7 separate regions of the Homo sapiens genome follow, and regions 1, 3, 4, 5, 6 and 7 are each reported to be linked to region 2. Evidence: microRNA targets listed by miRTarBase, many of them from high-throughput screens and not tested one by one. Region 2 holds a microRNA gene; each other region holds the end of a gene's coding sequence. Distances are from middle to middle.
Evidence for each region. The annotated mature microRNA hsa-miR-6817-3p reads UCUCUCUGACUCCAUGGCA and lies in region 2 at 1,838-1,856, opposite strand. An mRNA with a match to its seed (bases 2 to 7 or 8) in the 3' UTR can be bound and repressed. Matches are read on the target gene's strand: a 7mer-m8 pairs with bases 2 to 8, a 7mer-A1 pairs with bases 2 to 7 and ends in A, and an 8mer does both.

Region 1: miRTarBase lists GPR37L1 as a target of hsa-miR-6817-3p. Seed matches in the 3' UTR shown: 7mer-m8 at 2,058-2,064 and 7mer-A1 at 1,245-1,251.
Region 3: the mRNA of CABP7 is a reported target of hsa-miR-6817-3p. Seed matches in the 3' UTR shown: 7mer-A1 at 1,655-1,661, 7mer-A1 at 1,653-1,659, 7mer-A1 at 1,651-1,657, 7mer-A1 at 1,649-1,655 and 7mer-A1 at 1,647-1,653.
Region 4: the mRNA of LHX5 is a reported target of hsa-miR-6817-3p. Seed matches in the 3' UTR shown: 7mer-A1 at 766-772.
Region 5: miRTarBase lists ZNF662 as a target of hsa-miR-6817-3p. Seed matches in the 3' UTR shown: 8mer at 1,225-1,232 and 7mer-A1 at 827-833.
Region 6: the mRNA of ZNF708 is a reported target of hsa-miR-6817-3p. Seed matches in the 3' UTR shown: 7mer-A1 at 421-427 and 7mer-m8 at 822-828.
Region 7: miRTarBase lists PIP4P2 as a target of hsa-miR-6817-3p. The part of its 3' UTR that is shown has no 7-base or 8-base seed match.

Annotation. Positions count from the first base shown.
Region 1 is chr1:202,127,705-202,131,769 of GRCh38, reverse strand. It overlaps GPR37L1 (G protein-coupled receptor 37 like 1), which reads right to left. Exons shown (of 2, transcript NM_004767.5): 2 at 1-4,029. The coding sequence ends at 3,214. Among named protein-coding and RNA genes, the nearest start is that of GPR37L1, 6.8 kb to the right of the region's middle. RefSeq lists enhancers at 320-1,103, 1,104-1,887.
Region 2 is chr22:25,453,482-25,457,547 of GRCh38, reverse strand. MIR6817 (microRNA 6817) reads right to left here and starts at 1,902; the gene lies at 1,837-1,902. It also overlaps the pseudogene CRYBB2P1. RefSeq lists an enhancer at 1,732-1,835.
Region 3 is chr22:29,728,960-29,733,017 of GRCh38, reverse strand. It overlaps CABP7 (calcium binding protein 7), which reads right to left. Exons shown (of 5, transcript NM_182527.3): 4 at 3,810-3,963; 5 at 1,185-3,576. The coding sequence ends at 3,449. It overlaps ZMAT5 (zinc finger matrin-type 5), which reads left to right. Exons shown (of 6, transcript NM_001003692.2): 6 at 1,664-2,062. The coding sequence ends at 1,793. Among named protein-coding and RNA genes, the nearest start is that of CABP7, 11 kb to the right of the region's middle.
Region 4 is chr12:113,459,405-113,463,470 of GRCh38, reverse strand. It overlaps LHX5 (LIM homeobox 5), which reads left to right. Exons shown (of 5, transcript NM_022363.3): 5 at 1-1,438. The coding sequence ends at 281. Among named protein-coding and RNA genes, the nearest start is that of LHX5, 10 kb to the left of the region's middle.
Region 5 is chr3:42,914,692-42,918,757 of GRCh38, reverse strand. It overlaps ZNF662 (zinc finger protein 662), which reads right to left. Exons shown (of 5, transcript NM_207404.4): 5 at 1-4,066. The coding sequence ends at 3,404. Among named protein-coding and RNA genes, the nearest start is that of ZNF662, 11 kb to the right of the region's middle.
Region 6 is chr19:21,289,492-21,293,551 of GRCh38, reverse strand. ZNF708 (zinc finger protein 708) reads left to right here. Exons shown (of 4, transcript NM_021269.3): 4 at 1-2,392. The coding sequence ends at 278. It also overlaps the pseudogene COX16P1 and the pseudogene VN1R83P. Among named protein-coding and RNA genes, the nearest start is that of ZNF708, 38 kb to the left of the region's middle.
Region 7 is chr8:90,992,398-90,996,463 of GRCh38, reverse strand. PIP4P2 (phosphatidylinositol-4,5-bisphosphate 4-phosphatase 2) reads left to right here. Exons shown (of 7, transcript NM_018710.3): 7 at 644-2,662. The coding sequence ends at 787. Among named protein-coding and RNA genes, the nearest start is that of C8orf88, 9.2 kb to the right of the region's middle.

The sequences.
Region 1 (4,065 bases), not on the chromosome of region 2:
TGGGATCTTGTCTCAAAAAAAAAAAAGTGTTCAGCCAGGCATGGTGGTACACACTTGTAGTCCCAGCTACTCAGGAGGCTGAGACAGGAGGACTGCTTGAGCCCAGGAGTTCAAAGCCAGCCTGGGCAACATAGTGAGACCCCCCCACCCAGCTCTTAAGAAAAAAAAAACACACATAACCTATTAAAGTTGAATGGGAACAGACCATGAGTATAGGTAAATTGTCATGTTTGGGGCCCTTTGATGCCAAAACCTGGATGCATTTAAGAATCCCTGGGCCAAGCCTGCTCCTAACACTAGAGAATTGAATTCCCAAAGGAGAGGAAGGAATAAAAGGTTCGGGGCACCATGCAAAGTGCTTTATGTATCTTGTCTCATTAAATGACCATAATCCTCTGTGAAGGACAGATTATTCCCATTTTACAGATGAGGAAGCTGAGACTGAGTTTAAGTAATTGCATTCAGTTCCAGGATAGGTGATGAGAAGGTGACTCCCAAGTGGAGCAGGGAGACCCAGTGGATTTCAGGCTCCCCTCAGCCCTGTAACCTGGCATCAGGATCTGAGGGCTGGTCTGAAGTCTGCCCTCGGGTGAGCGTGTCAGTGCCCCCTCAGACCATCCCAGCTCAAGTCCACTGCCCACCATGTGCCAACCCCCCCGCAAGCCTGGGACCCCTAAGCAACAAACCCTACATTGTTCCCCCAGCTGGCCCAGGCTGCGAGGACAGTGGCTCTTTCCCAAGGCCGCTGGCCTGCTGACTGATTCTGCAAGCCATTCACGTTGGCAGGCTTGGGAGGTGGCGGTGGCAGAGCCTTGGAGCCACCATCTCTCCCCCTTCATCTCTGAGCCGGCCAACCAGCAGGAGGGAGAGGTGGAGGGCACCCTTTGTGGAGGAGGACCCCTAAACAGGATGTTGAGGGGTCTGACTCCCCTGCCCTGGACTTCACCTCAGTTCACCCGGCCCCTTCCTGCATCCCTTAGGAAGCTGGTGGTACTTCCGGGCCTGGCAGGGGGGTGGAGAAGGAGTTGGGGAAATGCCGAGGAAACGGTCCCCAAGAGCTTCAGCACGACAGGCCTGCCTTTGGTCCCCTCTCCAACCTGCTCCCCCACCCATCTGAAGTTTCTACAGACAGAGCTGGGGGCTTCAGTCACCGTGGCAACAGGTCTGCTGAGAAACGGGTGGGTGTCACTCCCCAGCACAAAGGGTGTGTGCATGGCGGCGCCATCACCTAGCAACGGCCTCCCTCTCTCTTGGCGGCATCACCCGCCCTGGGGGTGGGTGCCAGGGAGAGAGAACAAGGCCGTTAAGATCCCCAGGAGAGGGGGAGGGAAGCTTGGGTACAGGGCAGGCTGAGGCCAAGGGGTGTGGGTGGGTGGACAGAGGAGAATGGAGCCCCAGGCGCTTGGAAACCCTGCCCCTGCCCATCCCTGGGCCCCCGGGGCCCTTCCTGAGGCCCCATGTGGATGCTGTAGGTAGGCCTGGTGGGCAGAAGTCTGGTGGGACCCAGGACAGAGCTTCAGACAGGGGGGGTGGTTCTGAGGAAAGCTGAGCTCCCAGGCGGGGAGCGACTGGTGGCCTGGCTGAGGCATCACTTCTGGTTGATGCTGTGCCAGCTTCCCAGGGACCTACAAGGCTAAGGGTGCCCTCTGGAAGGGACCAGAGGTGGGGCTGGGGGAAGTGGCACTTCAAGGGCAAGACCCCACAGGAGAAGCTGCATGAAGGGTCTGCCGGGGGCAGTGGGAGCTCTGGCGGGAAGGGTGGTGCAGTGGGGGCTGGGTGGGGGCAGGCCAGGGCAGGCAGCTGGGCCGTCTACAGGCAAAACAGTCCATTCTAAGAAACTGAACAAGAGCAGCTCTCAGAGTGACAAAGGCTGGGAAGCCCTGGGGCTCACAGAGGAAAGACCACTGGACTCCCTCCAAGGGGGGCTTTGTGGAGAGAGGGCATAGCAGAGATGAAGGCTCCAGAGGAGATATTTTCCAGGCTTTTGACTTCCCAAGGAGCATGGGGTTTAGGCCAGGATGAGGACTTAGGTCCTCCGGCTCCCCAAGCCCTCCATCCTCTCTGTCCCTCAAAAGCCATAAAACCCTTGGAGTCGCCAGGGCCACAAGGCTGTTCTGAACATCGGCCACAAGGCTGTTCTGAACATCAGCCACAGGCCAGGCCAGGTCAGGAGAAATTCTCCTAGGCACTGCCAGGCCAGGAAGGCCCAGCTGCATCTGGGCCCTGCCAGAATGTGGCACAAGAAAGTGGATGGGCATAGGGGTAGTTCTACCTAGTTTATTGTTTCTCAAGAAGGGCCTCCTATGGGAAAGCACCTAACAAGGAGGTTGGGACAGGGCAACCCAGGGATCCCAAAGAAAGGAGGAGGAAGGAGAGAGAAATCCTCTGGAAGAAAAGAAGGCACCAGTAGGAGGAGGCATCCAGGACTGGGACAGATCTGGTCCAGAGAAGAGTGTACTGGGGCTGGGCGTGGCAGCTCACACCTGTAATCCCAGCACTTTGGGAGGCCAAGGCAGGCAGATCACTTGAGGTCAGGAGTTCAACACCAGCCTGGCCAACATGGTGAAACCCCGCCTCTTCTACAAATACAAAAATTAGCCGGGTGTGTTGGTGCACACCTGTAATCCCAGCTACTCAGGAGGCTGAGGCAGGAGAATCGCTTGAACCCAGGAGGCGGAGGTTGCAGGGAGCTGACATCAGGCAAATGTACTCCAGCCTGGGCAACAGAGCAAGACTCCATCTCAAAAAAAAAAAAAAAAAAAAAGAAGAGTGTGGTGAGCCACACTGGGCTGGCCCCAAGGAGCCCCCATTCCAAGATGGGGCCCCAGGTTGGTGGTAGGAGGATGATGCCTGGGAAGGGCACAACTAAAGTATGGTCAGGTTCCAAGGCAGAGAGAGAGAAGAGAGACTGGAACCAAGGGAGGGCAGGCAAAGTTCTGGCTCCCAGCTGCTGGGACTCAGAGTTTCTGGGCAGTTCTAAGGACCTAGAAGCATCACCGCCCACCAGTGGAAAGGACAGGGTTGGAAGGCCCCACAAGGGACAGGAAAGGCCCTGTGTGGGGAGGGGGCTTTGACATTCCCAAACCTTGACAAGAGGAACCAAGTCCATCCCTAGACAGCAAGACAGGCAACAAAGCAAGACCTATGGGGAAAGAACAGCAGACACCGGCGGGGGTGGCGGCCTCTCCCTCCCTCCCCACCCCTACTGGGGCCTCAGCAAGGTGTGCCCAGGGGCAGGAGTGGGGGTGACTCCCTGGGCTTGTGGAAGTAGATGGAAGAGGACACCTCGGTCTTGAGCTTGTTGTCCGACCCATTGGCAGCAGAGGCCTCCGAAGCCCCGCCGCACTCCTCACAGCAGCAGCAGCAGCAGCAGTCCAGGAAGGCCTGGCCCAGCGGCCTGCAGATGCAAAGGAGCAGCACTGGGGTGATGGCGCCCTTGAAGAAGGTGGAGAACTGGTTGATGAGGCCCAGGAGGTCCAGGGTCTGGCGGGTCAGCTCGGTGGAGAGGTAGGCCACCACGATGTTGCAGACGTTCTCTGGGAGGGTGCAGAAGGCGTAGACCACGGTCAGGCCCACCACGGTGCTGTTGAGCTGGCTCTCACACTGCTCGTGCTTGCTGGCCCTGCACTCTGACTTCCTCCCTGGAGGGCCTCGCACCCGCCATGTCACCAGCTGGCAGGTGACTGTGAAGAGGATGGGCAGGCAGAAGTAGCAGCCAAAGTACCACCACATGCGGGCGTTCTGGTAGGTCATCACCAGTGAATACAGGGACTCGGGCAGGCTGGCTGAGGGTTTCATGATGCATGAGTCCAGGGTGCCCATGGTGGGGGCAGGCTCCTGTGCCAGCTGCCACAGCAGGAGCTCAGGCACAGCCAGCGTCATGGAGCCCACCCAGATGACAGCCAACTTGGCCAGGATGGATTGGCACCGCTCGATGGGCCTCACCTTGGGCAGGGTGCTGGTGGCCACGTGGAAGCGGTCAATGCCCAGGGCACAGAGGCTGAAAGTCGTGACTCCCAGAGAGGAGACCTGTGGGCAGGATGTGAGGGAAGAGAGAAGCACTTG
Region 2 (4,066 bases):
CCATTTACTTTCCAGTGGGAAGCCAGAGGTCAGCAGAGCACATTGATGTGTGCAAGATCACCAGTGTGTACAGGGCAGAGCAGGACTTAGGACCCCAGAGTCTCAGTTCCTGGGGCAGGGTGAGCCAGGGCTGGCAATGCACTTACATGCCACTCCGCACCCACACAGATGACACCTTCTCCTGGTAGCCATGGGCGTGGAAGCTGGGTACATCGTCATCTATGATTTCCATCTTCTTCCCGGTGAAGTTGGGGTTTTCATAGAGGATGATCTTGTGCTCTTGGCTGTCCTATTGGCAGAGGATGGGGGGAAGTGAGTATGGGTGAGGGGGCCCAGGGTTGGCCTTCCCACCCCATGCTCATGCCCCAGAGTTGGGATCAGCATGTCCCACACATCACTCTCTTCCCAATGCACCCACTACGTGTCTATGACCACTGCTGTTGGATCACAGCCGTTTGTTAAGTTTCTACTGGGCCATTTTCATGTAACAGACACTCTGCAACACTTTGGGGAATGTTTGATTCTGAAATGTCATTTTTTCCTCCTCAAGTTTCTCTTTTATAAATGGTGGCTACGATCTACCTACCCACCCACATATGAACACCCACACATACACACACACGCACACCCACACAAGCGTGCACACATACAGGCACACACGCACACTTGCACACACACACGCGCGCGCACACGTGCACACCCACACATGTACACACACATGCACACCCACACATGTGTGCACACACGTGCACACTTGCACACACACACGTGCACACACATGCACACCCACACATGTACACACACACATGCACAGGCTAACTGTGCCTCTAATAGGCACCTGAGATACTTTGATTTTTCTTCATTTCTACATCTCTTCCCATCCTCCTGTCCCTATGACATTTTCCTTAGTTATCTCATCTCATCCTTTACACATAAAACCCTTATCCCTCAGACATAAAATCCTCTTATGCCATTTAGCAGATGAGGAAAGTGCGGCACAGAGAGGTCAAATGACGTGCTCAAGGCCACACAGCTGGGAGCAGCACAGCCAACTTGGGAACCCAGGTCTGTGGGGTGCAAAGTCCAGTGTTCTCCAACCTTCCAGTAGGTCCTGGGAGGAGCTAGACTGGGCTTGGAGGGTTTGAGAGTGTAACTGAGCAGTGATGGGCCCTGTCCCCTTCCTGAGAGTTGACACTCTCACACACTAGTAAGAATCAGGATCTCAGAAGCACTGAAAACTCACACTGGCACGAGTCTTGAAGAAGAGCTAAACCACCTTCTCCTCCAGCCCCAAACTCATAATTTCTTGTAGTATTTCTGATGGCTATTGGTTATTGAGCAATGACGGGAGTTGCCCAACCCTTGGGCGCGGGGGGCGGGCACCAACCACCTAAAATAGAATGTGAATAGTGCCCTCTGGAGCATTTCATAGTCTTGTGATTGGAGCCTTCTGGAGTTGCAGTGTGACAACCCTCAAGCTAATAAGCACATTGGAACCTCAGGACAGTAGATACCAATATGCCCATTTTACAGATGAAGAAACTGAGGCTCAGGGAAGTAAAATGACTTTTGCAAGGTCACCCAGTGAGGAGGTTCCTCACCAATCAGAAGGGGCACAATGCTAGAGGGGCGGGCTCCTTCCTGGTCCCAGGACCTCCTGCTCCAAGGTGGCAGAGAGAGAAAGTAGGATGATGGCAGGGGGCTCACCACTTTGATGGGCCTCAGGCTGCTGAGTCTGTCCTCTGGCTGCTGGTCCACCAGTCCCAGTGGGCGTACTCGCCCTTCTCAAACACAAACTGCTCGCCCTTGCAGTTGGCCTGTTCATAGCTCACCCAGCTGCCATGGAGTCAGAGAGAAAGGGGGCAGGTCAGTTCCACTCCAAGCTTCCTATGGCAGAATCCTGGCTACTGATGTTGACCCCTAGGGTTCACTCTTGCCCAGCCCGGCAAGATGTAATAGCCCCACCCAAACCTTAGCACAGCAAATCCAAGTGCAAAATCCCCTCAGTTATCTAGAACTCAGTGCTATGCTGCCTTTACCCACCTGGAACACAGTTAAGAAATAAGAAGGCAGTCTAAATAACGGCCCAGCAACAAATACCAATATATAGACGCCATGCACTAAAGCCAATAGTATGCTGGTAAGTTAATAGCCAACTCTCAAAAAACAAAACGAAAATTAACACTCTTGATTTGCAGCGTTTGCCAATTTCCATGGTGTAAATGCTCCCACTGTGGCAGATTTCAAGCTATCAATACGACACGGCTGCAAGTGAAGTTAGGAAGAGAGATGCACAGTCAGCCTTCACCACTGAGAACTGACTCTAGAACATCTCTGGGCCCAAAGCCCCTCTCTTTGGATCTGTTTCTTCTCTTGTTCCTGTTGTTAGACTCTGCCCAAACTCTGTTTTTGTAGATCCACATTAGAAGAAAAATAGTACATTAAAGAGGAAGGGATGGCTTTCAGGTCGGGCATGGCTAATAGAAGAAAGCAGAAAATAGAAGAAAGAAGGCACAAATCTCAAAATGATTAGCATTCTGGGACCAACCAGTGCAGAGGCGAACATTTCAGCAATGTGCAATAATGGCTTTTCAGAGGAATGATCTAAGTCATTAACAAAAGAGGAGATCATGTTTATTATCCTCTTTTGGAAAAGTAGTCTTGATCCAGCAATTCTACTTCAGGCAATGGTTCCTTACAAAACAGTTGTCAAGGGGCTGGGCACTGTGGCTTATGCCTATAATCCCAGCACTCTGGGAAGCTGAGGTGGGCAGATCACCTGAGATCAGGAGTTCGAGACCAGTGAAACTCTATCTCTACTAAAAATACAAAAAATTGGTCAGGCATGGTGGCTCATGCCTTTAATCCCAGCACTTTGAGAGGCCGAGGCGGGCAAATCACGAGGTCAGGACTTCAAGACCAGCCTGGCCAACATGGTGAAACCCCGTCTCTACTAAAATACACAAAAATTAGCTAGGCATAGTGGCAGGCACCTGTAATCCCAGCTACTCAGGAGGCTGAGGCAGAAGAATCACTTGAACCTGGGAGGCGGAGGTTGCAGTGAGCCAAGATCACGCCACTGCACTCCAGTCTGGGCAACAGAGTGAGACACTGTCTCAAAAAATAAAAAATAAAAATAAAGAAAAAGAAGACGTTCAAGTGACCAACTGACATGAAAAAATGCACTACCTCACTAATCATCAGTGAAATGCAACTCACAAACACAATGAGATACCATCTCACGCTGGTCAGAATGGCCATTTTTCCAAAAGCAAAACAACATGCTGGCGAGGCAGGAAAGGAAAGGGAACGCTCCTACCTTGGGGAACGTGAAAACAGGTTCACACTGTGGAAAGCAGTGTAGAGATTCTCAAAGAACTTAAAACAGAACTACCATCAGACCCAGCAATTCCACTACTTAGTATCTACCCAAAAGACAATAAATCCTTCTATCAAAAAGACACATGCTCTCGTGCATTCATGGTCGTGCCATTCACAAGAACAAAGATGTGGAAGCATCCTAGATGACCAGCAACAGTGGATTTGATTTTTTAATGTGGCGCATACACACCAAAAAATACTACGCAGCCATAAGTAAAACACACAATCATGTCCTAAGCAGCATGGATAGACCTGGGGATTATTATGTTTAGCAAACCAAGGCAAGAACAGAAAACCAAATACTGCATGTTCTCACTTATGAGTGGGAGCTAAACAGTGAATACACTCGAACATAAAGATGGAAACAATAGACACTGGGGACTATCAGATGGAAAAAAGGAGGCAGAAAGGGAGTGTGGGCGGAAGAACCACCTGACGGGCACTTTGCTCACTGCCTGGGTGACGGGGTCAGTGGCCACAAGCCTCAGTGTCATCAAAGGTTCACATGTAACTAAGCTGCAATTTAATCAAAATAAAAGTTGATTTAAAAAAAAAAAAAAAAAAACAGGGTTGCCCTGGGCACAGTGGCTCCCGCCTGTAATCACAGCACTTTGGGAGGCTAAGGCAGGCAGATCACTTGAGCCTGGGAGTTCGAGAGAAGCCTGGGCAGCATGGCAAAACCCTA
Region 3 (4,058 bases), 4.3 Mb from region 2:
GTCATGGTGTGTGGCCCAGAATAGCACCTGGTCAGTAAGATCTTTCAGCATTGCTGTTTGTTCCACAATCACTGGGTGGCCTCCTGGCACCAGGCCTGGCCCTGCGCCTTGGGGTACAAATACACCTTACCCCTATCCCCTGGTCTACATCCTCTGGGGACTCCAGTCCTAAGTGGAAGACAGATGAGCTCCTGCCTGAATTTTGGCGGCGGCTGCATGGCACTCTCTGCTGTGGATGTGGATGTGCATGTGTACTTTTTTTTTTTTTTTTTTTTTTTGAGAAGGAGTCTCGCTCTGTCGCCCAGGCTGGAGTGCAGTGGCGCGATCTCGGCTCACTGCAAGCTCCACCTCCTTAGTCCACGTCATTCTCCTGCCTCAGCCTCCCAAGTAGCTGGGACTACAGGTGCCCCCCACCACACCCGGCTAATTTTTTTTTGTACTTTTAGTAGAGACGGGGTTTCACCATGTTAGCCAGGATGGTCTCGATCTCCTGATCTCGTGATCCACCCGCCTTGGCCTCCCAAAGCGCTGGGATTACAGGCGTGAGTCACTGCGCCCGGCCAATGTGCACGTGTACTTAATCAGTCCCCCACAGCTGGACATGAAGGCTACTTCCATTGTCTCACGGCTATTGCTGTAACTCAATGGCTGCCCACAACCCTGCTATTTCCTTGGGCTCAGTTCCTAGAGGTGAGGTTGCTGGTTCAAAGGGTCTGCATGTTTTTGAGGCTCTGCCTTCCAGAAAGGTCTTGTATAGGCAGCTGGGGTGATGGGAGTTCAAAGTGCTCAAAGGTTCAAAGTACTTCGAAGCCTGAGAAGGGCCATGCGGCCCTGGAGAAGCAGCATGCGTGGGGCCCAAGGCCAGAAGGATCTGAGTATGGGACAGGTGGAAGAATGGTTGGGGGGCCATCGCTGGGCCTTGGCAGGGTGCCCCGGGCTGGGCACGGAGGATGCCTCTCCTAGGGCAAGTACTTACATGGACCCCAAGTTCCAGGGGAGGTGGCTCGGGGTGGACGTTGAGGAGGAGGACAGTGAGTAGCATGAGAAATTAGGCTTTAAAAAAAAATTTAGACAATGTTTTTTTCTGATTTCAAAGGCTTGTGTGCTCGTAAAACTTTTGAGAAATATAAAGGAGTAAAAAAGTCACCCATAATGGCACCACTCAGATAGGACCACTGTTAACATTTTGCTGTGTCTTCCAGGATTTTTTTATGCATTTATATATTTTATATATTTTTAAACAAAAATAGTATCATGCTATATACATTATTTTATAAGCTGCTTTTTCTCCCTATCACACAGTATGTCTTTCCTCATCAGTGCATATAAATCTGCCTTAATTCTTACACAGGCCGCATGGCATTCTCTGCTGTGGACGTGCATATGTATTGAATCAGTCCCCCACAGGTGGACACGAAGGTTATTCCCATTGTCTCGCAGCTCAATGTCTGCCTGCAACCCCGCTATTTCCTTGGGCTCAGTTCCTAGAGGTGAGGTCGCTGGCTCAAACGGTCTGCCTATTTTCGAGGCTCTGCCTTCCAGAAAAGTCATGCAGGCAGCTGACCCTCCCCACAGCCAGGGTGGTGAGGCAGGTGGGCTGGGGGTGGCATAAGCCTGGGCTGTAGTGCACTCTTATTCTCCCCGCTTCTCTCTCTCTCTCTAGGGCTGAACCCATCAGAACCACTGTCTTCCAGTACCCCGTGGGCTGGCCACCAGTTCAGGAGCTGCCTCCATCCCTGCGGGCACCCCCACCTGGGGGGTGGCCTCTGCAGCCCAGAGTCCAGTGGGGCTGAGCCCCTTGCCCCCGACTGACCCCCACGTGGTCACTTTTCTCATCAGTCACAATAGGAAGCCAAGCCCGGTTCCTGCTACGCCCCATGGAGGCTCCGAGACCATCTGCCCAGCCTCACTGAGGCTCAGGACACGGCCACACCAAGTGCAGCCCTCGTCCTGGGTCTGCACCGGGCAGCTCTCCCCTCACTCTCCTCCACCTGCCCCCCTGCTTCTTAAGAAGATGGGGGAGAAAACTTCCAAATGTTTATAAAGAAAGTCTGTCACCACAGTGGTCTGGCTGTGTTTCCCTACACTGGGTGCTCTGAGCTCTGTTCTCCAGCCCCTAGCAGAGGTCGGGCAAGGAGGGAATCAGATGAGATTTTCCCCAGGTGACCCACGCTCACTCCCTTCTCCCTTGGGACCAGCAGAGGTTCAGCACGGCCAGGCAGAGGGTGTGCCAGGGTGGCTGTGCCCGTTGCCTGGTAAGAAGTGGCTCTAGGCCCAAGGAGCCCAAGGGCTCCATCTGCCATCCCCGCCCTGGAAGAATCCACAGCCCCCATGTCTGCCCATGCTGAGCTGCTGCCCAAGTATTTGGGATGGCACAGCTGGGGCATGGGAGCGGGGTCTCCAACCTTGAGGGCGTAGAGAAGTGGGAGGACAGGAGGGCAGGCCCTGGGCTGAGAGAGTGGCCTGGCGCAGCCTCTTGGCACTGACAGTGTGGGGCTGTGCCAGTTTCTTGGCCCAGGAGGTAGTACAGGGGCCCTCCCAAAGTTCAGCCCTGGAGGAGCCCCCTGGCTGGAGGCTGCTCAGAGCCTTCAGGCCCCAGCTCTGCCTCCTTCCTCAGCTGGACTACAGTTCTAGGCTCTAGGCTGGGGTGGTGGACAATGTGGCCTTGGTAGCTGGGCCTCTGGTGGGAGGGCCAGAAGGTGGGGGGCTGCAGGGCCACCTCAGATGCCCATCCTCCACGAGCTTCTGCCTTTCCTGAAAATCCCTGTGGAAGGAAGAACTGAGGCCAAGTCTCGGGGCCCTGAGCCTCGGGTTCCTCACCTGTGAAATGGGCTGGCCCAGCAGGTACATGGAGAAAAGGGGGTCTGGGTTGGGGTCCAACGAGGGTCAGAGGAAGGGGCCCAAGGAGAAGACCAGGGGCCTCCTCAGGCTATGCCAGGCAGCAAGGCCCAGGACACCCTGGCTTCCCACCCTCCCCCAGGAGAAGGCTTTCTGTCCCTGCCTGTGCCCTGTGCCCTGGGCAGACCTCAGGGACCAGGGCTGGGTTGGCTGTGTGGCCCCAGATAGGCTGCTGTCTCAAGGCACAGGGTGCCCGCTCCTGCCCAAGGGACCACAGCAGCGACTGGGTCCTGGGGGTTCCTGTGCAAATCCCTCCTTAATTTCCCAGGAGCCCCTGGATGGTAGGAAGAGTGAGTGCTCCTTACAGGCCAGGGTGGGGACAGGGTGGGGCTGGGGACCATCCTCAGAGCCACCACCCGGCCCTCCACAGCCAGGCCACAGCTCCAGGTGAGGACCGTGGGTGGGTGGGGAGGGCTCGCTGGATACCCAGGCCCTGAAGTACACGCAGATGGCGGCCCAGGGAGCCGGCCAAGGGAGAGGTCTGCAGGCGGCGGTGGTGTGGGGCGGGCCACGGGCACCGCATGCGGTGGATGGGGCATCCAGGTGGCGTCTACTTCATGCCACTGCGCAGCACCTGGTTGGCCGCAATGAGCATGACACTGATGATGAAGGCGATGGCGAAGGCGCAGATGAGACTCTTGCGCACGCAAGTCTGGCGGATCTGCTGGTTGGAGCAGGCTGTGGCCGCCCGCCGGGAGCACCGGGGAGACAGAAGGGGACATCAAAGCGATGGAGTCAGGAGCCGCCTGCCCTTCGGCACATGGGCTCATCCCATGGGGTGCCCCAATGGGACAGAGGCTTAGGACAGGCAAGGAGGCCCCCAGCCCCCCTCTGCAGACTCTCCCCACCCCGTGCGTCCCCCTGGCCAAGTCACTGGGCCCACCCGTGGGGTTCCAGGGCCAGCCACTCACTCTCCACATCCACGGGACACTCCTCGGCTGTGCCCAGGTGGCTCTCCTCCTCCGTCATGATGATGTTCTCTATGTCCTTCATGGACAGGTGCTCGCAGAAGGTGTCGTAGAGCAGCCGCTTCAGCTCATCCACCGTCAGCTTCTGCATGTCGCACTTGCGGAGGGGGACAACACGGTGCTCTGAGAGCCACCGCAGCCCCCACCCAGCACCCCACGGCCATACAGACCCGGTGACAGGCCTCTAGATTC
Region 4 (4,066 bases), not on the chromosome of region 2:
CCAGCTTCCTGGCGGCCTCTGGCCCCGGCTCGACGCCGCTGGGAGCGCTGGAACCGCCGCTCGCCGGCCCGCACGCCGCGGACAACCCCAGGTTCACCGACATGATCTCGCACCCGGACACACCGAGCCCCGAGCCAGGCCTGCCGGGCACGCTGCACCCCATGCCCGGCGAGGTATTCAGCGGCGGGCCCAGCCCGCCCTTCCCAATGAGCGGCACCAGCGGCTACAGCGGACCCCTGTCGCATCCCAACCCCGAGCTCAACGAAGCCGCCGTGTGGTAAGGCCGCCGGGCCGCCCCCCGCGCTCGGCCCCCGGGGGCCCCGCCCCGAAGCAGCCTCCTGAAACCAAAACGCCCGACGCAGACGCGGTGGGAGACGTGGGTGTCCCTCGGGGGTTCTCTCTCGGGTCCGCACTCAACTGGCAGCTGCTCCTCGGCTGGGCGCCGAGGGGGGGCCGACCCCCATCTCCACCCCGCGGGCTCTCCAGGAGCCTCAGCCCACCGCCAGTACTCTCCCAGCAACCGCGAGCAATTTCTTGGGACCAAAGTCAATACTCCGGAGGGTCAAGAGATTTCGAGCACGCTCTAGACTTTCCCCGGGCCCCCACCCACCCACCCAGCCACCGCCACCTCTTTGGACTGAGAGAGGGTGAGGCCAAGGGGCGGAGACGGTGTTTTTCCCTCTCTCTGCAATCCGAGTGGCATTTTGTAATCTTATTTCTCGCTGTGCTTTCCCCGTCTTTAAAAAAAAAGATGATAAGAAAAGGAGAGAGATTGAAAGAGAGGGAGAGGAAAGGGGGCAAGATGAGGAGGAGATGGAGAGACAGCGTCAGCCAGAGGGAGAAGACGGAGAGCGAGCGAGGAACTCGCGTGAACCGGGAGCCACCGAGAGGGAGACCGAGCCACCTGCACGCTGGCGCTCCCTGGTGGCCAATCTTGAGGCTCAAGGTCAGCTTCTCTAGGAATAGGGCTGTGGGTCAGGAAGTGGCCAGCCGGGTCCAGCTCCCGCTCTTCCTTACTTTGACGTTTATGTTGAGCCCGAGGGAGCAGGCCGGACTCGAACACGCACACATCCTGCTCTCCCCCTGGGTGGGGCGCCAGGATTGCTGGGCTCAGACCCACAGACCACCCTCCCTGCCCAGGGCCTGGAGGCTGGGCCGTCAGGATGTACAATATTATACTTTTTTGGAAGTTGAACGCTTCTAGTTTCCTTATTTTGTATAAAGAAGAAACAAATAAAGTATGTTTTTGTGTTTACTGTTTATTTATTGTACTCTAGTTATCCGGGGTTGGACATTTTTATATTTTTAAGAGGAGGTAGGGCAGAGTGACGGAGGGGAAGCAGAAAGAGGTTTACCTAAAAAAAACAAAAAACAAAAACAAAAAAAATCAACTTTTTTTAAAGAGAAAGATTAATAAAAAAAAATCTTTTTTCCCTCAGCGCTGTGTGGTTTTCTTTTTTTGTCCCTACCTTGATAACGACTCAGAGAGAATGAAACCATTCCTTTCCCTGGTTCTGGTCTCTGACATTAAACCCTTGATGGGTGCAAAAACCTCTGCTCACCCAAAGGGGGAGCTCTTCTAGTGACTCCCAGGTTCATGAAAGTGACTGTCCTCTTTCGACAGCTACTACGTGCCAGGCACCGTATCTCCCCATGCTTTATGTAATACCCTGCTCTAACACAGGCCTGCCCAGCATATAGTAGGTCTTCAGAATGTTTGATGAATGAATGAATGTGTGATTTGTTTGTTGCCAGCACATCAAAAGAATTAGAACTTCACTCCTAACTATTCCCCCATGTAATTTCTGGTGGCCCAAAAAAAGAGCAGGCTGGTAAGCTGATGCTGGTTATCTGCAAGGCTATGTTAGGACTGAAGTGCGCCTCCTCCCCAAAGTGAGGCTGTTGTGCTCTGCAAATCTTATGCAGTGCATGCTTGTCTTTAGGTAAAGGCATGAGGGAAAGAGTGTCCAGTGAGATTTAGGAGGCCTGAGGCCACTACCTAAAACAAGTCACTCTCCTTCTTTGACTCAGTTTCCCTACTTGCAAAAGCAGGGGTTGGAGAGAGTGCTTCCTACATTCCCTTCCAACTCGAATGTCTGTAATCCCAGCACTTTGGGAAGCTGAGGTGGGTGGATCACCTGAGATCAGGAGTTCAAGACCAGCCTGGCCAACATGGTGAAACCCTCTCTCTACTAAAAATACAAAAATTAGCCAGGCATGGTGGCAGGCACCTGTAATCCCAGATACTTGGGAGGCTGAGGCAGGAGAATCGCCTGAACCCGGGAAGCGGAGGTTGCAGTAAGCTGGTACTACATTACTGCACTCCAGCCTGGACGACAGAGCAAGACTGTCTCAAAAAAAGAGAGAAAGAAAGGAAAGAAAGAAAGAAAGAAAGAAAGAAAGAAAGAAAGAAAGAAAGAAAGAAAGAAAGAGAAAGAAAGAGAAAAAGAAAGAAGGGAAAAAAGAAAAAGAAAGGAAGGAAGGAAGGAAGGAAGAAAGGATAAAAGAAAAAGAAAAGAAAAGCAGGAGAGGGAGGTAAAAATAAATAGAAGAGTGTCCTGCATTGGGATCACTTTTCACCCAAGCTCGGGGTGAGTGAAGCGGCCCATTGTAGCTGCAGCAGGGGAAGGTGGGGAACAGACCGCCATGGGACAGGCGCACGCTCAGAGCCCCACTCTTCTGCCCTTCTTCTTTATGTGTTCCTCACAAGAATCATGCAATGTGCCTTGCCTTTTTCTTTTCTTTCCTTACTGCACATTCATCTTTATCAGACCAATGCTACTTGCTTGTGGAAAATTTAGAAATCTCAGATAAACAAAAGGAAGAAAATGTCACCACCCAGAATCTCAAGCACTATGGAAATCTAGATGATGCATTTTCTTTCAGACTTCTTTTTTCTTTTCTTGTTTTTTTGTTTGTTTTTTTGTTTGTTTGTTTTGTTTTGTTTTGTTTTTTCATTTTGAAACTAGAGATCATACCCTATACTCAATATGTGGTCATCTGCTCTGGTTCACTCAGCAATAGCTTCCAGATGTATAAACTGATCTTCATAGACAGAGCTATGTCATTCTGTGTAGTCACTGCTTAAAGTTCTCTTCAATGGCTGAGCCATCCTTTTATGGTTTTTGTTTTATTTTTAACCAAGTCTATTATTGGATATTTGGGTTTGTTTCCAACGTTTCACCACTTTAAACCACATCAGAATATCCTTGCAGCTGAATCCTTGGACGTGTATCAGGGTAGGTATTATTGGCCCCCTCAGGGTACTCAGAGAGGTTGAGGGACTGGCCCAAAGTCACACAGCTGGGAAGTGGCAAAGCTGAGATTCAAACCCATGTATTGGGTTGTGTTTCTACTTCTCTATGGTGCCCTAACTGTAACGGATTTTAGAGGCCAAGAGAGAATTTGCAAGGTGGACCTCATCTCTGGCGGGTCCCTGAATGCTTTCTGGGCATGTGTGAACTTTACAGAAGGGCTCACTTAGAACTTGCACCAGAGCAATATGGGGGAAGCGAAGCTAGGGGGAGGAGAGGACTCACCCCTTCCTCAAACAGGGTTGTGACAGGGAGATACAGGTTGGGGAGAGAGGGGAGGGGAGGAGGGGTGAAAGAGAGGAAGAGGAGGGGAGGGAGGCAGGAGAAAAGGAAAGAATAAGGAAGAGAGGAAGAGGAAGAGAAGGGAGAAAGGTTAGGAGGAGAGAAAGAGAAGATTAAATCTGTGGCAGGAAGAGCCCCCATAGGTGTGCCAAGTCACCTACTGCTCATGCTCCATGGTGTCCAGGGACCGCCCCCAGCCCCTACCCAGATAGGACGCTTAGACCCAGAGGTGTCCTTCAGTGAAGGCAGCAGAGTGAGGCTACAGAATGAGAAACCGCAGTAGAACCAAGCCCTCTGCCCCTTTCTCCAGGTACAGGCACACACATGCACACACACACGCACCAGACAGTTACATATGGGCCCACACAATGAACACTTACACATGCAAATACATGTACACGAACAAAAACACAAGCATATACTGATGCATGTTCACAGGCATATGGATTTACACACACACACACACACAC
Region 5 (4,066 bases), not on the chromosome of region 2:
TTTACCAGGGACCCTTAGATAGGCCTCTGAGGGAGATCTCACTGCTATTTTCCCAAAACAGTGCCCCCATCAGCAGGAACCAGTTAAGATCGATCACTACCCTTATCCTTATCCTTATTCTAAGTTAGATGTACTTCTTTAGAGGGGGGAATGATAGAATCAGGAGACAGCCAAATGCTGCCCAGGTCATTGTGCACAGGGGGATTGCCTAAACATGCCCATGATGAAAAATTCCGTTCCTTAACACATACACAGTAAGGGAAATAATGTGGAGTGGCTCAGACTAAGGGCCTGCCTGCACACTGGGAGAACGGGGTGTAGCCACCAGGAATTCATGCAGGGGGAGAAGACTAGGCTCTTCAGCTCATGTGTGGTGGCCTGGTATTCAGTTTAGTGAGATGGAAAACCTGCATGCAGGACCCCTCTTTTTGTTGAGAGTTTTCCTTTTCACTTAATAAATTCTGCCCTCCTCACTTTTCAATGTGTCCCTGTGACTAATTTTTCCTGGTCATGAGACAAGAACCCAGATTTTAGCTGAACTAAGGAGCAAAAATTCCTGCACTAATGGTATGACTTAAAGCATCACTTAGTAGTATGCATGAAATTAACCTTAGGTCATGAGAGCCACCTATTTATTATTTTCATTTTTTTGAGATGGAGTTTCACTCTTGTTGCCCAGGCTGGAGTGCAATGGCACAATCTCGGCTCACTGCAACCTCCACCTCCCAGATTCAAGCAATTCTCCTGCCTCAGCCTCCTGAGTAGCTGAGATTACTGGCATGTGCCACCACACCTGGCTAATTTTGTATTTTTAGTAGAGACGGGGTCTCTCTATGTTGGTCAGGCTGGTCTTGAACTCCCAATCTCAGGTGATCTGCCCACCTTGGCCTCCCAAAGTGATGGGATTACAGGCGTAAGCCACTGCACCCAGCAAAAGCCACCTATTTAGATGCTCAACTTCCAAGCAACTGAGATGAGATAAAACTGAGAAGCTTATGAGACTACTGAGCAAGAGGAAAAGGTGACACTGAGGAGCTGTATGAGAAAACAGTGATTTCAAACACAAAACAGTATTAGTGTGGCTAAGTTGCAAATAACAGAAAACTCAACTCTAACTCGTTTGACAGATGTTTATTGGCTCACATAGCTGAAAAGTTCTGAGGTAGCTCTGCTTCAGGTAAAGCTTGGTCTAGTGGCTCAAAAGATGTCACCAAGGACCTAGTTTCTCTCTGTTTAGTCACTGTTTTCTTTGGTATTGGCTTTATCCTTAGGCTCCATATGGTAGCACCTGGAAGCTTGAGAATCTCCCCTTTTAACAGAAAAAAAAAGTTGCTATAATTCTAGGTCTCACATTTTCCTATGTGCCACACAGAGGACAGATAATATCTCCTCTGGTAGCTCTCGATGAAGAAAAGCCTCTCTTTTCCAGAAGAGCCAGTATCTCCTCATATCACAATGGCTCTGTGGCCAAGGGGATGGGATAAACTGATTGACACAAGCCAAACAGGGTCCACTCATGAAGATGGTGGTGGTGCCAAACCACATAGCTGAGAAAGGATAGCTTCCCAAAGAATACCCGGGTAACTGTTCCCAGAGAGAAGGGGAAGAGATGATGGAAACCAATAAAAGATGACCACGTCTAAAAATGTTGTTTTATAAAACTCCTGATTTCAAGTAGAATTAGTTAATTCTATAATTCTTTACTTTCCTGTGTAGACGCTACATGTTCCTCGTGTTTGTTTTATCTTTGGTCCTGGACCTAGGGAGGGCATTTCTGGCTCTGATGCCAATACTGGATTATGTGAAAACTTTTCAACTATTGACTGGATGAAGCTATCTAACAAAGCATTAACCACCACCAGAAAGTGACCATTTCTCCCTCCCTTGGCAGTGGCCTCACAGCTTATCAGAATGTAGACTATCATGGTAGTGAGGGATGGACAGACTGGAAGAGGATTTAGGATAGGAAGCAATGAGAGGGCTGGAACTATATAAATTTTTATGAAAAAAAATCTCCAGTTGAGTTTACATATTCCCAATCCCAGAATGATATCTCATAAAACAAAGGCAATGAGGTCTCTTAAGACCTGGATTGGCCAGGCGTGGTAGCTGAGGCCTGTAATCCCAGCACTTTGGGAGGCCGAGACAGGTGGATCACAAGGTCAGGAGATCGAGACCAGCCTGGCTAACATGGTGAAACCCCGTCTCTACTAAAAATAAAAAATATTAGCCAGGCATGGTGGCGGGCACCTGTAGTCCCAGCTACTTGGGAGGCTGAGGCAGAAGAATGGCATGAACCCAGGAGGTGGAGCTTGCAGTGAGCTGAGATAGCACCACTGCACTCCAGCCAGAGCAACAGAGTGAGACTCTGTCTAAAAAAAAAAAAAAAAAAAAAAAGACCTGGATTACCCTCTGCTGTTTCCCTAAATTACTTTGGTGGCCTCAAAAGGAAAGCAACTTCTGAAGAAAAGGTCTTAGAGTTCACAATTTAACTGCAATGTTGCTTCCATCAAATAAGGTTTTCAGTGAGACAGAATTATGAAAAGCAATACTAATAAACACTTGTATACAAAGAGTATCTACAGAGATACACAACCAGTAGCAGTGATTGCCTCTGGGGAGAACTCAAGAGATAGGAATGACAAGGAAATTTACTTTTCACTGAACACCCTTTTCAACTATTTCAATTCTTTTTTATCATGAGCATGTTATATCTAGTCAAAGATTAATGTTTCAGGATTTGAAAAACATAAAAGAAATGTACTGTTGGTCCTCAGAGTCATTTAGCTGGGGTTAAGATTAAAAGACATGAGACTATTAGAAAAATATAAGATGGCACATAATTAAATACTAACTTGGGTGGTACTGATTACAAGTAGAAGAGGAAGAGAGATCTTCTTAGTTGAAGGAGCTAGATCTGAGTGATGAAGGGAAACTAAAAGCACAGGAAAATAAGCAAATAAAAATGGGCAGAGACATAAATATGTACAATTAAGTAAAGAACAGTAAACTCTGCAGTCAGATAGGCCTGGCTCCAATTTCAACTCTATAACTTACTAACTGAGCAACCCTGAATGAGTTTTATAACCTCTTTCAACTCAGATTTCTCATTTGTAAAATGGGGAGAAGAGCACCTACCTTAATAGGATTGTTATGCAAATTAATGTATGTAAAGTGGTTAGCACCTGATACAGAGTAGCTGCCCAACTAAATGATGCCTTGTTAAAACATCATAGAACAGAGGGACCAGTCTTGCTAGAGTACATGGTAAATGTTCAAAAGGGCAAGATAATACTGGCTATTTAAGTTAAGGGTTACAGCAAATTGTGAATGGTCATCTCATTTTGTCTCTAGGGTTCCTGCAGCATAAGAATTATAAACAAGTATCACCATTATGCACTCTCTAATGTTCAAGAAGGTGAGAGATCTGACAGTTATAGGGTTTGTCTCTAGCATGGCGCCTCTGGTGCTTAATTAAGACAGAATTCTGACTGAAGGCCTTCCCACAGTCATTACATTTATAGGGTCTTTCCCCAGTATGGATTCTTTGATGTCGAATAAGATGTGCCTTGCAAAAGAAGCTTTTCCCACAGTCAGTACATTCATGAGGCTTGTCCCCAGTGTGGACCCTCTGGTGCTGAGAAAGATCTGAGTTCCACATGAAGCCCTTCCCACAGTCCTTACATTCGTAAGGCTTCTCCCCAGTGTGCATTCTCTGATGTCGAAGAAGGGCTGGGTTTCGAGTAAAGCTTTTCCCACATTCCTTACATGTGTATGGTTTCTCACCAGTGTGGATCCGTTGATGTTGCGTAAGGCTTGTGTTCTGACTAAAGCCCTTCCCACATTCCTTACATTCAAAGGGTTTCTCTCCAGTATGTATTCTCTGGTGACGAATCAGGTTTGACTTCCAAACAAAGGCCTTAGCACATTCTTGACATTCATAGGGTTTCACCCCACTGTGAATTCTCTGATGTGCAATGCAATGTGATCGAAAACTGAAAGCCTTCCCACATTCCTTACATCCATAGACCTTCTCTCCATTATGAGTTTTCTGGTGTTGATCAAA
Region 6 (4,060 bases), not on the chromosome of region 2:
GAGAGAAACCCTATAAGTGTGAAGAATGTGGCAAAAGCTTTATTCTGTCCTCTCATCTTACTACACATAAGATAATTCATACTGGAGAGAAACCCTACAAATGTAAAGAATGTGGCAAAGCTTTTAACCAGTCCTCAACCCTTATGAAACATAAGATAATTCATACTGGAGAGAAACCCTACAAATGTGAAGAATGTGGCAAAGCCTTTAACCAGTCCCCAAACCTTACTAAACATAAGAGAATTCATACCAAAGAGAAACCCTACAAATGTAAATAATGTGTCAAATCCTTTAGTGTATTTTCAACTTTTATTAAAACACAAGATAATTCATACTGGAGAGAAATCCTACAAATGTGATAAATGTGGCAAAGCCTTTAACTGGCTCTTAATCCTTATGAAACAAAAGATAATTCATACTAGAGAGAAACCCTACAAATGTAAAGAATGTGGCAAAGCATTTAACTGGTCCCTAAATCTTACTAAACATAAAAAAACTTAAACTGGAGAGAAACTACAAAGCTGGAAGACATCACAGTAATTCTGACAACACCTCAAACTTTTCTAAACATAAAATAAATCATACTGGTGAGGAACTTTAAAAATGCGAAAAATGTGACAAAATCTTTAAATGATTGTCACACTTGATTGTAGGTAAGATAATTCTTACTAGAAAAACTCTTACAAGTGTGAAGAATGTGGCAAAATTTTTAATGAATACTCACACCTTATTGCCAGGAAAGCATTTATACTTGAGAAAAATTGTACCAATATAAAGACTGTGAAAAAGCCATTAATGTCTGCTCACATCTTACTCAACATCAGAGAGTACTTAAAAAAAGTATTATAAATTTAATTACTGTCAAAAAGTATTTCAGAAAATATAAGCTTTTAAAGTATTTATTTTGAAGACAAACATTACAAATAAAAGAGGATTGTAATACCTTTATTTGTATCACAGATCTTATTGTACACATTTTGTACTAGAGAAAACCCTGAAGCAGTTACTTAAACTTTGTTCAACATCAGGGAATTCAGATTGGAGAAAAACCCTGCAAATGTAATAAATTTGAAAAAAAAGTTTTCCAAAACTACAACTTAGACAACACCAGAGGGTTCATACTGAGATATATTTTTGCAGATGCAGTATATATTTAAAACATTTAATCCAAAATAAGTCTATGTAAATATCAGAGAATTCACAGTGGAAATATCTAAGGTAGGGCCGGGCATGGTGGCTCACGCCTGTAATGCCAGCACTTTGGGAGGCTGAGGTGGGCAGATCATGAGGTCAACAGATTGAGACCATCCTGGTCAACATGGTAAAACCCTGTCTCTACTAAAAATACAAAAATTAGCTGGGCGTGGCGGCACGTGCCTGTAGTCTCAGCTACTTGGGACGCTGAGGCAGGAAAATCCGTTGAACCCAGGAGGCAGAGGTTGTAGTGAGCCGAGATTGCACCACTGCACTCCAGCCGGGTGACAGAGTGAGACTCCATCTCAAAAACAAACAAACTAAGGTATGGATGCTTCAGACATTACACTATATCAAAGTGCTGACTGTTAAAAATGATCCCAAACTAACGGTAGATAAATTTATTTGTACATAACTTTAAAAGGAGTAGAAGATTTTTTGGAAGTTTGTAATTACATTCAAAGTATACTTTTTTTGTTTGTTTGTTTTCCTTGAGACAGAGTCTCTCTCTGTCGTCCAGGCTGGAGTGCAGTGGCACAATCTCAGCTCGCTGCAACCTCTGCCTCCTGGGTTCAAGCAATTCTCCTGCCTCAGCCTACTGAGTAGCTGAGATTACAGGTGCACACCACCACGTCCGGCTGACTTTTGTATTTTTAGTAGGGACGGGGTTTCACCATATTGGTCAGGGTAGTCTTGAACTCCTGACCTCATGCTCTGCCCAGCTTGGCTTCCCAAAGTGCTGTGATTACAGGCTTAAGCCACAGCGCCCGGCCCAAAGTGTTCTTTTTTCCTTGAAAAGAAGTACAGATTTTTTAAAAAGCTAATATTGCTGTGATTCAACTCTCTAGTTACTTGATGCTATTTCTTCATTTCTATTGTATTCACATGTGAAAGCATGTGATCAGTTGTCACGGCATCAAAGATAGGAGAGTTTCTTTTTTTTTAGGTGGGCATTATTTATGACCTTTTCTTTGGAAGAGTAAGGACATTAAAATGTAACATGCATGATGAAAATCTAAGTGGAGATGGTATTTGTGGTTAATTATGATATTGAGTGGTGCATGAGGTAGGTGTTTAGAGTAATATTCTTTTGCATTATAGTAAGAACATTTAAGTTTTGTTAAAATTAAAAAATTAGTACGTTATTTTACTATTTGTACTTTTATGTAATAAAATGCAGTACATTTTTAAATTTTCAGATGATGTGTGAACTTGTTTCATTATACATTTTTAACATGTTAATACTATTGTGCATTCAATGAAGCATTATTATGCCACTAACTGAAACCTATCCCATTTACTCAAAGGTGTAGGTAAATGATAGTAAGAATATACTATTTGGTAATGTAATCAACTAACATCTCTGGTAATCTCCTTTGCCAGTGGCTTTCAACTGCAAATAAGTTTAAAAAATACTGTTTCCGTAGGTTAAATTTTTATTATTTTTTCTTGTTGAAATCTGTTTAATTTTTTTTTTTTTTTTTGAGACAGTGTCTCGCTGTGTCCCCCAGGCTGGAGTGCAGTGGCACGATCTCGGCTCACTGCAAGCTCCGCCTCCCACATTCACGCCATTCTCCTTCCTCAGTGTCCTGAGTAGCTGGGACTACAGGCGCCCGCCAACACGCCCAGCTAATTTTTTGTATTTTTAGTAGAGACGGGGTTTCACCGTGTTAGCCAGGAGGGGCTCGATCTCCTGACCTCATGATCCGCCCATCTCGGCCTTCCAAAGTGCTGGGATTACAGGCGTGAGCCACTGCGCCTGGCCTAGATTTTTATACAACGTGTAGCAAATACAAAATTTGCTAGAGAATATATTTTAGAAATCAAAATTTTAGGAGTTCTAATGGTAAGTAAAGAATTTTAAATTTACTTTTCTGTAATGTAGTGTAACTTAATTTCTATGCAGAATCTTCTACTTTAAGAGTGAATGTTAAACATGGCAAAATAATAAAGTGACCTCTGTGAATTTGAAATTTGAGATAATATTTCTTTTCCATACTGATATTACAATTTGAAGAAATTTCCAGTTCATATAACTTTTTTTCAGTGGGTGAAGTTCAGTCTACAGTTTTTTTTTGTTTTTGAGAAAGAGTTTTGCTCTGTTGCCCAGGCTGGAGTGCAGTGGCCCAACCTCGGCTCACTGCAACCTCCGCCTCCCAGGTTCAAGTGATTCTCCTGCCTCAGCCTTCCAGGTAGCTAGGATTACAGGCATGCGCCACCACACCCAGCTAATTTTTGTATTTTTAGTAGAGACCAGGGTTTCCCCATATTGGGCAGGCTGGTCTCGAACTGCTGACCTCATGATCCACCTGCCTCAGCTTCCCAAAATGCTGATAACAGGCGTGAGCCCCCGCACCTGGCCCAATCTACAGTTTTTATTCTGAGTCATCTAAGTATAGCCAACTCCTTGGTCATTTTCTCTGAAGAATTTTGGAAATTTTGGCAACTTGTGGATTAAAACATTTCCTATTATTTTGCATGCAAGCTTGTTTACTGTGTTCACAGTCATGGGACAATAAACATCACCTGCCCATTTACTGTCTATCATACCATTACCATCAGCACCAGAAACTCCAGGTGCCCCAAGCTTAGAAGCCCTAAACTACATTGGCTCCTCTCATACACTGTGCTGTGTCCAGAACATGCTGTTAAATATCAGAGTACCTATGGTTGTGTTGTGGCTGAAAAATAATGCGAAAAAAACAGCACAAAAACCATATATTTTGGATACTATTCAGCAAAATTAATGATGAAGACACAATATTTGAAACATTGTTATCCTTCTATAATGTTTTAAAAATACATTTCTTAACTGGACAGATGAAATGTGTGTTCTGTAAAGCATGATGATTTGAAGTATATCTAC
Region 7 (4,066 bases), not on the chromosome of region 2:
TCCAAGTGAAACGGTGTCTTTTTACCTCCAAAAGTCCTTACTGTTGGGGATTTTATCATCTATTTAGCAAAAGCCCATTTAAAAAAAAATCAGTGCCAGAACTAATTTTTATGGCTATGGGGTCTCTTATTATTCAAAGCAATATTCATTCAGCTACAGAGATCTAAAAAAACCACTCTTCTCTTTATCCAAATCAAGCAGAGATTTATTACCAATATGAGGATGGCTTGTTTTTAGAGAAGACTGGAGCTAAGCAGTTAGCATGGGGATTATGCCAGAAGAGGAAGATAATCTCTTTGGCTGCCATTTCCATGCTCCTTTGTTTGTCAGTACAACTAGTCCCTTATTATTAGCAATGTCCTATTGTGTCCCATGATAGTAAGAAGTTACATGGATTAAATTCCTTGTAGAGATAATATAGTTTAGTGTGCTTTTTTGTTTACTTCATAACATTTATAGTTACTACAAGTAGCAGTATGGTCTATCAGTTGCAGTCAACAGATACACCTACTCTTATAAGGACTTTGTGTATTCGGTCTGGGGGTATATTTCATAACAATCACATGTAAGCTGATACAAGTTCCCTAAGCAGATATTTTTTAAAGTTTCTAATATTTTGTTTTTATATTGCTTTTTATTTTAGGTTGGCACCCCAGATTTTGCAAGGCGATTTCGAGCAACCTATGTTTCTTGGGCAATTGCTTATCTCCTAGGATTGATCTGCCTTATCCGAGCTTGTTATTGGGGAGCCATAAGAGTCAGTTATCCAGAACACAGTTTTGCATAAGCTTGTTTATGATTCAGTAATGCAGGTGAGAGTGTCTAGCAGTTCTTGGTAAGCTACTCTGGACATCTTTAAATTATTTATCCTAATGGATTCCATTCTGGTTTATGTATAATCGTTTCAAGACTTTGGGAGTCTTTTATGAACAAATGCTCATTGCACTATATTATATGCAAATTGTTTTGCTGCTAGGTTTTCAAAATTTGAATAATAAAGCCTTTTCATGTTCTTTTACATCTCTTATAGATATTTTTGGATTTGTTACCAAACATTACATTTACTCTCACCCTTTTATTATTTTTAAATAAGTTATTTCATTACTTGCTGATACATGAGTATTCCTAAGTGTTTATAAATATTTCTATAATAGTTTCACATTTATATTTACATTTTAATTAAACAGTATCAAAATTGCTTGCTTAAAACCTAAGCAATATGCATTTTGCTTGAACTGCTTACTGTAACTTTAACCTAAGATTATAGTGACCTTATTCAGGAAAAAAAAAAAAATTTAGTGTAACTTCAAAGACTTGACATTCTTGTCAGAGGAAAAAAAATTTCTAGATACTGTTTGCTTGTTTTTTGTTGTTTGTAGAAAGATAAAATATTTTGGTAGTAATTTAAAATACAAGAACGAATATTTATTTGTCCACAGTTGGAGATGTTGGATAAATGTCTTTTCTCAAAGATCACAGGACTTTTGTCTTTCATTTTTGCCTTTTTATTTACCATTTATAAAAGATCTGGTCTGGATTATGGAATTTAATGTTTATCAGCTCTATGTATTCCTTTATAGAGGCTTGAGGAAGTATTTCACATAACATGTTTTATAATACTTAACCATTTATCCAAAGATATATTTACATTGGGTTGTGCCCCTTTCCCTTAGATCATGGTAAATTTTTCTTATTGAGGTAATTATGTACTACTTATATTTGAAGGAAGCTTATGACATTTTACAGTAGCTAAAATGTTGAGATTAGAGGTACTTTTACTATTCTTCTCAAAGGTAACTGATCAGATAATTACCCAAATTATTCAAGAAAATAGATCAGAAATAAAGAACAACATAATTTTCTAAGAATTCATTGAAATTTATGGAATCAGCTCTCGCACTGCCCATCTTTGCAGTTTTGAAAAAGAAATTGCTTAATCACAAATGTTCTACAGTCTTTAAATGTAGTAGAATTAGACAGTGAGATCATCTGAGTAAATTGATTGGTGATTCCAGAGATAAGACTAATATTTTAAATTATTTATGATACTGATTAGTATAAAAACGTACTCATCACAGAATTTGAAGCAAAATACATGTACACTTCAAAGAGTAAATGACAAATGTATAAATGCTGTAGCTCAGGATTATATGTACCTTTAAAAATACACTAATAAAGATTATTGTTCAAAAATTACCTTGTTTTATTCCATTAAAAATAATGTCACTTCCAGAGTTGCCTTGAAATCTTGCTGTAAAGTTTTCATGTTTAGGAATGTACCTGTTTCTTTATATAATATTCATTTATGTTTTTTGTACTATTTTCAAATGGTTTTATTTTTAAAATATAGTTTTTAAATCCATTTGTAATACACTTGATGTTAGGTATAAAATAATCTTACTTCTTTTCCTAATGGTTAACTAGTTGTAACAGCATTGTATACTGAATAATCCATTCTTTCCCTCATTGATTGGAAAGCTCACATTAAATTATATGCTATGTCATATTCCTTCTGGAATAATAACTTTATGAGAGCAAGAACCCTGGTAGTCTTGTTCACAGCTTTATCCCCACTTAGAACAGTTCTTAGTGTACATGTGCTCAATTTACGTGAATGAATATGCATGAATGAATAAATGGTTGAATGAATTGCTATTTTAAATTCTTATATACACTTGAATATGTACTTTATATTTTGTACCAGAATGTATAGGTAAGTATTTGTATAACCTTGGGTTAAGAAAAAAACGTTCTAAGTAGAACTTAAAAGAAGAAATTATATAGGAAAGGATTGATACAATGAAACAACAACAACAAAATCCCCAAAATACTTCTGTATGATAAAAACCCTTAAGCAAAGCCAAAAGACAAACTGGTGAAGCTATTTTCAAAATAGGAGAAAGACTGTAATATCAGAAGGGACTAACGGTATGAAAAAGCAATTCACAAAATGACTACAATAGGTCATAAACTGTTTTTCGATTTTTCTTTTTTTTTAGACAGGGTCTCACTCTGTCACTTAGTCTGGAGTGCAGTGGTGTGATCTCGGCTCACTGCAGCTTCCACTCCCCTGGCTCAAGCCATCCTCCCACCTCAGCCTTCCAAGTAGCTGGGATCACAGCATGCGCCACTATGCTGGGCTTTTTTTTTTTTTTTTTTTTTTGGATTTTTTGTAGAGATGGGGTTTCGCTATGTTGCCTAGGCTGGTCTGGAACTCCTAAGCTCAAGCGATATGCCCAGCTCGCCCCCCGAAAGTGCTGGGATTACAGGTGTGAGTCACCGCACCCAGATCCCAATTTTCTAATATTTGAAGAATGTAAGTTAAAACAAAGAGATACTATTTTTCACTTACCATATTAACAAAGAAGTAGAAATTACAATAATACCCCTGTAATGCTGAGGACATTGGAAACACACACACACACACGCACACACACACACCACATATTCTTTGATCTAGTAATTCTCTAAGAATTTATCCTAAAGGTATTGTCAATTTTCTAATAAAGAGTAAAAATATAGTCCAATAATCCAATAACATGAGATTGATGAAATAAATTATGGCACACCTATACAATGAAATAGCAGACAATCAAGAATATGACAAAAAATTTCATCTATTGAATTGGAAATGGCTCGCAAATTGTGTGATACATAGAATATGATCCACATTTTAGAAAATGTATTTTATGTGTACATACTGAAAAAAACTAAGGAAAATAAACCAAAAATATTAGGAGTGGTTATCTCTGGGTGAAGAGAGAGAAATTATTTTTACTTTATTTTTGAACTAGATTGTTGGAAAGTAGGTTTTACTCTTGATGAATAGATAATAGTAGTATATGATGATTACATCAATATTTGTTAATTTTCATTTTGATTCTTGAAAAGTTTTAAAATGAGTTTATTAAAATCCAAACCAATGACGGTCATTGATAAAACCTTAAGCTTTAAAGTCAGAGAATATATATTTAAGCTTAGCCCTATGTGAGTTACCTAAAATTTTTAATTAATTAAATTCAAATTTATGAAACTTTATACTCAGTGTTGTCTTTTGTTATTTTGT